Linked DNA regions of Homo sapiens: region 2 is linked to region 1. The links come from fine-mapping of genetic effects on gene expression. A gene starts in region 1. The other region holds a variant in brackets. All regions are shown on one strand. Distances are from middle to middle.

What was found. PIP is the estimated chance that this variant, and not a neighbour inherited with it, causes the effect.
Region 2: its variant is fine-mapped to the expression of HTD2 in whole blood (TOPMed, PIP above 0.99). The same link has a PIP of 0.9 or more in lung.

What each region holds. Positions count from the first base shown.
Region 1 is chr3:58,304,259-58,309,631 of GRCh38, forward strand. HTD2 (hydroxyacyl-thioester dehydratase type 2) reads left to right here and starts at 2,262. Exons shown (of 5, transcript NM_001348712.2): 1 at 2,262-2,393. RPP14 (ribonuclease P/MRP subunit p14) reads left to right here and starts at 1,987. Exons shown (of 6, transcript NM_007042.6): 1 at 1,987-2,159. RefSeq lists enhancers at 1,773-1,852, 2,043-2,302, 2,423-2,552.
Region 2 is chr3:58,333,263-58,338,635 of GRCh38, forward strand. The region is part of intron 1 of PXK (PX domain containing serine/threonine kinase like); the gene reads left to right. Among named protein-coding and RNA genes, the nearest start is that of PXK, 3.1 kb to the left of the region's middle. RefSeq lists a silencer at 180-474. The variant G/A (reference allele first, on the strand shown) is at 1,995.

The DNA.
Region 1 (5,373 bases):
TTGCTTTCTCCACCTCTTCCCACATCTGGAACAAGCCCTGTCTCCTCTGAAGGAAGAAGAAAGTAGGAACCACAGAACTGGAGAGCATGGCCAAGGTTGAGGACTGAAGCTTCTGGAAACAACACAGTGGGATTTTGAGAAAATAATTGAGGAAGGAGATCCCCGCTGACTCAACTGTCCTGTGCAAGGCAACCCTTTGCCCCCCAACCCAAGCAAAACCAGCACATCCATTTATGAACAAATGCCTTCAGTAAATAGATGTTGGGTCACCATTGGGTACCAGGAACTGGGATGCAGTGGTGAGAAACACAGACAAGGCCCCATCCTCATGGGGGTTACACTAAAGTTTCCCTTCCCACTGCAGCCCCTCAATTGGTGGTAATACAGTGCAGTATGGAGAGCACTGGCTAGAATCAGACAGCCCATGCCACTGCTTATAACTGTGATCTTGAGCAAATAACTTAGCCTCTCTGTGCCTCAGTTTCTTTTCCTGTTGCCAGGCTAGAGTGCAGTGGTGTGATCTCGGCTTACTGCAACCTCTACCTCCCAGGTTCAAGCAATTCTCCTGCTTCAGCCTCCCGAGTAACTGGGATTACAGGTGTGCACCACCGTGCCCAGCTAATTTTTGTATTTTCAGTAGAGATGGGGGTCTCACCATGCTGGCCAGGCTGGTCTCGAATTCCTGGCCTCAAGTGATCTGCCCGCCTCAGCCTCCCAAAGTGCTGGAATTACAGGCATGAGCCACTGCGCCTGGCCTGTGCCTCAGTTTCTACCTCTAAAATGGTGATGATCATAGTAATAGCCATCTCAGGATTGTGTGAGGGTTCCATGAGATGACATATGTAAAATATTTTGCATAGTGCCTAGCACAAAGTAAGTCTTTACTTTGTGGGTCTTTCCAGGACGGCCTAGATAGAACACCTACTATGTGCTGGGAGTCACAAGGGACACTGAGAGTGGGTCCTATCTTTGGGGAGTGCTTGACATAGGAGATCTTGAGGAGAGGAGATGCTAGATATAATTTTGTAGGCTGGGCGCGGTGGCTCACGTCTGTAATCCCAACACTTTGGGAGGCGAGGTGGGTGGATTGCCTGAAGTCAGGAGTTTGAGACCTGCTTGGCTAACATAGTGAAACCCTGTCTCTACTAAAAATACAAAAATTAGGCCAGGCGCGGTGGCTCACGCCTGTAATCCCAACACTTTGGGAGGCCGAGGTGGACAGATCACGAGGTCAAGAGATTGAGACCATGCTGGCCAACATGGTGAAACCTCGTCTCGACTAAAAATACAAAAATTAGCTGGGCATGGTGGTGCATGCCTGTAGTCCCAGCTACTTGGGAGGCTGAGGCAGAAGAATCACTTGAAGGGAGGCGGAGGGTGCAGTGAGCCAAGATGGCGCCACTGCACTCCAGCCTGGGCGACAGAGCGAGACTCCATCTCAATAAATAAATTATAATATAATGAAAAAAATGTGTAGAATGACTCGGGCGCAGTTGCTCACGTCTGTAATCCCAGCACTTTGGGAGGCCAAGGTGGGCAGATCACTTGAGGCGAGGAGTTCGAGACCAGCCTGGCCAACATGGTGAAACCCCGTCTCTACTAAAAATACAAAAATTAGCCAGGCATGGTGGAGCATACCTGTAGTCCTAGCTACTCAGGAGGCTGAGGTGGGAGAATCGCTTGAGCCCTGGAGGCGGAGGTAGCAGTAAGCCAGATCGCGCCAGTGCACTCCAGCCTGGGCGACAGAGTGAAACTGTCTCAAAAAAACAACGAAAAAATTGTTGAATGAATGAATGAATGCATGAAGAAATGGATAACTATGAAGCACCGTCCAAGGCGGAAAAAACCCGCCCTAAACCGCACCCCAAGCAAATTGCACACACGGCTTTCCCGGAGTGGACACCAGAGGGCGCTGAGCTCGGCCGCTCTCAGCTCCGGATCAGGATTCGCGCCTGGGTCCTTAGGACGACGCCGCGTGGTGACGTCATATCCGCCTGGGCGTCACGCTTCGTGGGGCGGGACGAGGAGAAGCCAAACGTAAAGACACCAGGAGTTTCTCGGGCCCAGCTGTGGCTGCTGCCGGGGAGCCCCAAGCCTTGGCGGGTCCTTGCGGCGAATAGGAGTCTGGTCAGGCGTCAGGCTAGTCCGACGAAGAGTGGGTAGGTGGAAGCCTTCCAAAGAGCGGCGGTTGTCTGGGAGCCGTCTCAGTTGGCCGCGACCCGGGCGCATGCGCGGGGCGGGCGGTGCGCCTTGGGTAGCTTGTCCTCTCCGACCCCGGGCGCTGAGGGCCTCTGTACGGCGCCGCGTAGGGTCTCGGCCGCAGAACGTGGCCGAGAGGCCCGGGCGAGACTTCGGGACCGTGTCCTGAGCGCTCTCCATGCGCCCGGCGCGAGGTGAGCGCTAAATAGTGGTTGTTGAAAAATATTGAAAGCCACCCAAGTGCTCAGCAGTAAGGATATTGAGCTTTTTAAAGTGATTGATTTAGTCCAAAAATTGTACGTCGCACGCCCACTGTGCACGACCCAGTGTTTTAGGGCCTTGGGAAACAGCAGTGAACAAGATAGCAAGATTCTTGGAGTGGACTTTTGTTGGGGTGGGGAGGGGAAGTACAGATAAAGATAAACGAGTTACATAATTGTCATAGAAAAAGGCAAATGCTACGAAGAAGAAAGCAGGGACGGGGCATGGGGGTGGGGTGCGGTGTTAGCCGAGAAGGGCACTGGGCCAACCCGATTGAGATTTGAGCTAAGCCAGGAAGGGGGCAAGGGTGTGAGTCCGGTGGCTGCCTGGAGGAAGATCTTTCCCAGCATGGGGAAAAGCTAGAGCCGAGGCCCAGCGGTGGGAGCGAGACTGGCGCGTGAGAAAGAGCTAGGCTAGGCCTGTGTGGTGGCGGGGATTGAGCGGAGGGAGAATGGCAGGACATGAAGTCAGAGGTGTAGAGGGAGCAGTCCTGCAGGTGAGGCAGAGCCTTGCAGGCTGCTCTAAGGACTTTGGCCTTACTCTGGATAAAACGGGAACCATAGCAAGATTTTGAGCAGAGGAATGATGTAGCTTGAGTAGATGTTAATAGACTCACTGGCCGCCGTAGGGATGGAGAAGCGGGGGAGTAGGGAGAATCAGATTTATTACTAATAGGTCAGATTAGGAGCATCCCTGCGCAGCCACTAAAAAAGGCTGACTCTAGGCCGGGCGCGGTGGCTCATGCCTGTAATCCCAGCACTTTGAGGGGGCCGAGGTCGGCGGATCACTTGACGCCAGGAGTTCGAGACCAGCCTGGGCCAACATGGCGAAACCCCATTTGTACTAAAAATACAAAAGTTAGCTGGGCGTGATGACGTACGCCTGTAATCCCAGCTACTCAGGAGACTGAGGAGCGAGAATTGCTTCGACCCAAAGCACTCCAGCCTGGGCGACAGAGTGAGACTCCATCTCAAAACAAACAACAAGACTGACTTTAAAGATGACGATGACAGTAACTTCGTGAGCCCACATCTGTGGAGAGCCTGGTGAATATATTTAATACCAGTCTGTACAAAATAATTTCCCAGGTATCCTCTCCTTTAATGTCAGAACAGCCTGCAGAGGGCAGTGCTGTCATTTGTAAGTCTTTTTTTTTTTTTTTAATTGCAAAAAATACGTGACATAAAATTTATCGTAAGTAGCATTGAGTACATTCACAACGCTGTGCAGCCATCACCACTGTCCATCTCGTGAATGTTGTGTAAGTCTTCGTTTTACTGGCATCTAAGCCCTGGGTCTAATTTCACTCCCCTATTTTAGGCAGCCAGCTCCATCAAGGCAGTAACACTAAAAAACATTTATGTGCCAAGCAATGAAAGAAACAGATGAGGTTTCTTGTTCTCCCTGCCCTTCTAGTTAGGGGAGACTCTAGTGACTGGGAAAGAAGCATCAGGTAACTATTTCCGCTGTCCTGAAACCAAGGATTCTTTTGAATATATAGGCCTATACCACTATCACTTTTCTCTCATTTGAATACCTACTTTGTGTCATAGTATTACAGTATTTTTTGTTTGTTTGTTTTGGAGACAGGGTCATGCTCTGTCACCCAGGCTGGAGTGCAGTGGTACAATCACAGTGCACTGTATCCTTAACCTCCCAGACTCAAGCTATCCTCCCACCTCAGCCCCTGGAGTAGCTGGGACTACAGGCACACACTACCATGCCTGGTTAATTTAAGTTTTTTTGTTTTTTTTTTTAGTGACAGGGTCTCACTATGTTTCCCAGGCTGGTCTCAAACTCCTGGCCTCCCAAACTGTTGAGATTACAGGCATGAGCACCACGCCAGGCCCCAAAGTATTAATGTTTGTTGAATGGATTGGTAGATGTAGCTCCTTGACCCTGACTTCTTTTCTCCAGAGGTCATCATCTGGGAGTGGTTGGAACTGGGTCTAACCCAGAGTGGTTTTGAAATGCTGGTCCATAGCTCTGTGACCTTGGATAAGTCCCTTTCCTTGATTGGGCCTCAGTTTCCTGTTCCCTGTAGTGGGGGATCCATATATTAAACAAATAGACAGTGTTAAGAGATTGCATAACATGGGGGCTTAACTTAGAGAAGGGTGTCAGAGAAGACCTTCATGAAGAGGTGGTATTTAAACTGAAAGTTGAAGGATGAATAGGACCTATCCAGAGGGAGAGCAAGGTTGGCATGGAGCCAAGGAAAGGAACTGTCTACAGAGAGATGAGCATGTTCTACGTTCTTGAAAGTTCAGACCTTTTAGAAGCTGCATTGAGTGCCCCTTCCAGGAATCCCTCTTCTCAACCCCTGTGCTGTTTAAGCTCAGTTGTTCACAGATAGTCTTGCACAGACCTGGCTTTTGGACTGAGAGCAGGCAGACACAGGATGGGAGGAGACGGCAGAACGACCATCCCTCATTCTTCTCTTTGTGTTCTGTGTTGACTGAGAGTAAACAAGAAGAGGACCTTCAAATCTTAGATTTTACTCCTTTATGTCTTTTCTTTTTCTTTGGATAAAGAGGCATCGTAACTGGTCTTGAGTGGGCTCAGAGTGGTTGGAATCTCTGGGCACCCTTGGGCAGATGTTACCTACGTTTACTAAACCTCTGTGTCATCTTCTCGAAAATGGGAATAATAATACCTCTTACCTCAGGAGCATTTTGAAGACAAGCTAAGGCATGTGAAATGTTTAGCAAAGAGCTGGGTGCTCATAAGGAAAATTGTTAGCCAAAATTATGTTGTTATGTTTTAAGTAAGAGTACAGTGATTTGACATTTATAGAATATAGAAACTTATTTTGTATTCGTATGGGTAACCTTAGTTTGATCAGAATTAGATGAGTTACTGTGCTCAGAAGTCTTAAAAACCAAACAGGAGGCCAGGCACAGTGGCTCACAC
Region 2 (5,373 bases), 29 kb after region 1:
GGGCCCAGGCGAACGCTGAGGCCCGGAGGGGCCAAGGATGGGGACCGCAGCTCCCGGCGCCGCGGGGTGGAAGGAGCTCGGCGGCGACCAGGAAAGCGACTCCGAGTTGGGGGGCGGGGGCGGGGGCTGCGGGATTCCCGGGCTCACCTTGGACTAGGGGAGCAGGAACGAGACCGCTCAGGACCATCCACTTCTGCCCGCCGCCAGCCTTTTCCTTTTTGAGGCCGTGTAATTTCCTCCTTGCAGCTGAGGGTCTGGGTGATGGGGATGAGGGTGTGCCGGGCCAAATGAAGTGTGACTCCAGAGCCTACTTGTTGGGACAGCAGAGTGTAAGTGGCTGGGGTCTGCAGCCCCGTTTCCAGGTCAGCCGCTTGGCCCTGGTCCCGGGAAGTGGTGGGGGCGGCAGTCGGGGCGCTGTTAAGCAGGTGTATGAATGTGCTTCTCTAACTTGCTCTTTAGTGGGCAGTGGTAGCATTCATTTGAGTTTAAAATCCACTCGAGTAGCATAAAGGAGTAATAGGTCCTCATAGTAAACATTGGCAGGGTTCATTTCTGCTACATATACGGTCTTTTATGGGGCTTTAAAACCGTGGTTGTTTTCATTTGCTTGTACCTTTTTTTTTTTTTGAAAGGCCCACTATGCATTATAATTTCCAAGCAATAAATCTAGGAACCAGCAAGAAACCTGGAGCTATCAGCTAGTGGGACTTTTTTGGAAAAGTAATGAGTGAGGAGAGAGATTCCTTCAATTGTGATGTTTTGTCAGTCCACCGAATCAGATTCAGACTCAGAGGCTTGTTTGTTTACCATTGCAGTGTGTTTGGGGGGTCATCATCTGGAGGCTAAAGCTCACAATAGCCTTCTGTTTCTCTTTTCGTTCAAGCTCTTCTGATGACTTCAAAGAGACCTTTTATTCTGTTGTATTAAAGTGAGACTTTTTTGAACCTCAGTTTCCTCTTCTGACAGCCGTGCTTTGTAGGGCTTGAATTGTTCAAAGCATTCACTTCCAGTTAAGAAAATTATTATCTTTTTAAAAAGGGCTATTTATTTCACGCTGTGTGTCTTTAATCCTATTCTGTAGACATGTGAGAAGGCACATACAGGACAGAATTTGTTAAACTTGCTATCATTTGTGCCTAAAGGGAGTATGGCATAAGGGTTGAAATTTAGGATAGGGAGTCAAGAGTAATTCAGCTATTAAATTTGATTTTTGACTTGACTATTGGCAAGTAAGTCTTATAACCTTTCAGGGAATAGTGTCGAGTCCTTTAGGTTTATTTTGTATTGAAAATAAAGAGATAGATGTTTCTAAATACTCACAAATTACTTTCCCTAGGAAGCATTCATGATTTCTACAGCCCCAGCCCATGTGCCTACCCACACCTTAATCTTGATTAGTTTGTCCTGTAATTACTTCTTTACTTTTTGTCTCCACCAGGCTACAAGAGGAGGGGCACTTCTTCCTCACTTTTGAGTCTCATTCCCTGGTTTTTGATAGGATTTCAAATGTGTTTATCAAATGACTAAATAATCCAACTTCAACCTTACTATGCCTCTTTTTCTGTTTATGTAAAATGGTAATTGTAAACATTGAAAAAATAACTTAGAGATCAGTGCTTTAGCTAGGTGGCGAAAGATGTAATAGGATTCTGTTTTTATTGTAAGGGTGTGTGTGTGTGTGTGTGTGTGTGTGTGTCTGTGTGTGTGTGTGTGTGTGTGTGTGTAGAGACAGCGTCTCACCATGTTGTCCAGGCTGGTGTGTGTGTGTGTGTGTGTGTGTGTGTGTGTGTGTGTGTGGAGACAGCGTCTCACCATGTTGTCCAGGCTGGTCTGGAACGCCTGGGCTCAGGCCGTTCTCCTGCCTCAGCCCCACAAAGTGCTGGTATACAGATGTGAGCCACCACACCTGGCCCTGCAGATCTTTTCTTTAAAAAATAAAATAATTTAGGGTAGAAAATGGCAGTTCTTGTAGGGATGACTGACCACAAAAGACA[G/A]TGACTCACAGGAGACCCATAGAGGCAGATGTGGTAGAGTAAAAAACTGTAGCATTGTCTTGCGTAATTTTTTGACTGTTCTGTGTTCTTGTCATTTTAGCTGTAAAGTTTGACTGAGAAATGTTGCATCAGCCCTGAAGTTTATTGAGAAAATCTTACGCTGATGCAAACTTTTTGGACTGTTAGTGTCTTATGAGTAAGTCTTTTTTAAAACAGGAACTGTTGGAAATTATTTTGGAAAGAAGTAGTTGTTAAGAGGGGTATGTAGAAGAGAAAGGCACTGTTTTTTCTTGGGGAGATTGAAGTTGGCTTTCCAGCTTGGTAGCTGAAGGGAGATGGTGTTCCAGAAGTCAGAGCTCTACTCTCGCTTTGAAATGCTGAATCTCTAGGAAGTTACTCCTTGGCTGTAGACAGAAACATACGGAGTTAGAGACAGACTTGGGGTTGGAAGAGGCAAGACCTTAATACAGGTCTGAGCTGATACTTGCTAGTCATGTGATATAGGCTGGGCAAGTCACTTAAACCTTTTTGAAGTTTAGTTTTGTCATCTGTAAATGGGAGTAATAAATGCCTGCCCTGCCTGCCTCCCAAGGTTGTTAGGAAGATCAAATGAAATCATCTTGATGAAGTATTTGTAAAATGTATTCCTTCCTCCCTCCATCTCTTCACTCCCTGACAACATTTGTGCAAAGCGTTAAACACATTAGAGGGCGTTATTGCAAGCAAGCTCATTTCTGTCCATAGTTCCTTTCATTTATCAAGTTTGTTTAACCTTGGGAAACATATATATATATATATATATATATATATATATATTTTTTTTTTTTTTTTTTAATACCAATGGGGTTCTTGCTGTGTTGCCCAGGCTGGTCTTGAACTCCTGACCTCAAGTGATCCTCCCACCTCAGCCTCCCAAAGTGCTGGGATTATAGGTGTGAACCACTGCACCCAGCTGGGAAACCACCTATAACAGAAATGATTTAGGATTTGTGAACTTGGTAGGGAAAAATTCTGTGGTTTGGAAAACTGAGTCACCAGAAGGATGAAGGGAACACAAGGTCACCACCAGAAAGGCATATTTGGATGAGCAACTGGCAGAAAGGACATGTGTTGGTAGGTGATTCTGTGCTTTGCTGATGCTGATGCATCATTTTTATGGAGCAAAATGAATTTAGCATTAAGAGCTAGACCAGCCCTCTGCTGCAAGGAAATGAAGCTTCTATAAAATCAGAAAGGCTAGTATTTAGGGGGAGGATGCTTTCAGGTTAGGTTTGGAGGAAGAAGGAAGATTTTCCAGACAAAAGGAATTCTGGTGAAAAGCCACACAGGTGAGTTGTGAGAAAATTTAGGAGGACCAAGAGAGGACAAGGGAAAGGTAAGTTCTTGGCTATATAAAAGGGAAAACTTTTTAAAGTTAGTAGACTAAAAAAATGCTTACATAGCTGAAATAGAAACCAGAGGAAACAAAGTTTTGGAAAGCGCTGTTATCAAATGTGCACATCCAATTTTTGCTGGTGGGTAGGCTGTGTGTGATAGCTTTTCATCTCAGTTTTCTCCTTTTTTTGGGGGGTGGGGGACAGAGTCTCGCTCTGTCACCAGACTAGAGTGCAGGTCGCAATCTCAGCTCACTGCAACCTCCACCTCCCAGGTTCAAGCGATTCTTCTGCCTCAGCCTCCCAAGTAGCTGGGATTACAGGTATGCACCACCATGCCTGGCTAATTTTTGTATTTTTAGTAGAGATGGGGTTTCACCACGTTGACTAGGCTGGTCTTGAACACCTGACCTCAGGTGATCCACCTGCCTCGGGCTCCTAAGGCGCAGGGATTACAGGTTTGAGCCACCATGCCTGGCAGTTTTCTCCTTTTTAAATATTCTTCTGTGGAGTTCATCTGGATCAGGGACTGTTTATCTTCCATTTGGACATTTTGTTTTTGAGAAACAGATAATTATAGTGATAGTTAAGGCACAATAGAAAACATTTTTTAAAATCAGTGGAAAAGATAATATTACATGTTAAAATCTTTACTGAAAATGGATCTCTCCTTGAACTTTTGATATTTGGAAACTGCATTCCTGCATGGCTTATTTATTCAGCTATACTCATTCATTCAACAAAAATGTATTAAATGCCTACTATGTGCCAGGCACATGCTAGAGATAGAATGGTGAACCAGACAGCTCCTGCATCCATGGAGCTTTTGTTCTGTTGGATTCCAAGGTCTTTTTTTTTTCATTGTGAGACAGGTTCTTGCTCTGTCACCCAGGCTAGAGTACAGGACCACAGCTCACGGCAACCTCAGTCTCCTGGCTCAAGGAATACTCCTGCCTCAGCCTCCTGAGTAGCTGGGACTATAGGCATGCACCACCATACCTGGCTAATTCTTTGATTTTTAGTAGAGATGGTGTCTTGCTATGTTGTCCAGGTTGGTCTCAAACTCCTGAGTTCAAGTGATCCTCCTGCCTCGGCCTCCCAAAATGCTGGGATTATAGGTGTGAGCCACTGTACCTGGCCTCAACTAGGATCTTTACCATTCATAAAACAGATGGTTTTAGTGGCTTGGTTTATTGATCTTCAGCTTCTCATCAGTGACCCGACCCTTTTTATAGACTTTTAAACTTTATTTATTTATCACCAGAATAACTATTCAAATGTAATGGCAAATTAGGAGACATTGCTGCTTTCAGATCCTGAAATTTTAGGGTAATCTAGTACTCAGTATCAGAATTTGAACTTCCTTTTAGAATGCTACTTGGAAGTTTCTTTAGAATTCTAAGTTATACTGAATACTTTAAAAATTTCTTAGCCAGGCGTGGTGGCTCGCACTTGTAATCCCAGCACTTTGGGAGGCCGAGGCAGGCAGATCATCTGAGGTCAGGAGTTCGAGACCAGCCTGACCAGCATGGTAAAACTCAGTCTCTACTAAAAATACAAAATTAGCTGGGCGTGGTGGCACATGGCTGTCGTCCAGCTACTTGGGAGGCTGAGGCAGGAGAATCCCTTTAACCCGGGAGGTGGAGGCTGCAGTGAGCCGACATCACGCCATTGCACTCTCCGTCTCAAAAAAAAAAAAAAAGTTTCTTTAGGCCAGGCGCGGTGGCTCATGCCCATAATCCTAGCACTTTGGGAGGCTGAGGCGGGTGGATCACCTGAGGTCAGAAGTTCGAGAACAGCCTGGCCAACGTGGTGAAACCCTGTCTCTACTAAAAATACAAAAATTAGCTGGGCATGGTGGGGTGTGCCTGTAATCCCAGCTACTTGGGAGGCTGAGGCAGGAGAATTGCTTGAACCTGTGAGGTGACGGTTGCAGTGAGCCAAGATTGTGCCATTGCACTCCAGCCTGGGCGACAGAGCAAGACTCCGTCTTAAAAAAAAAAATT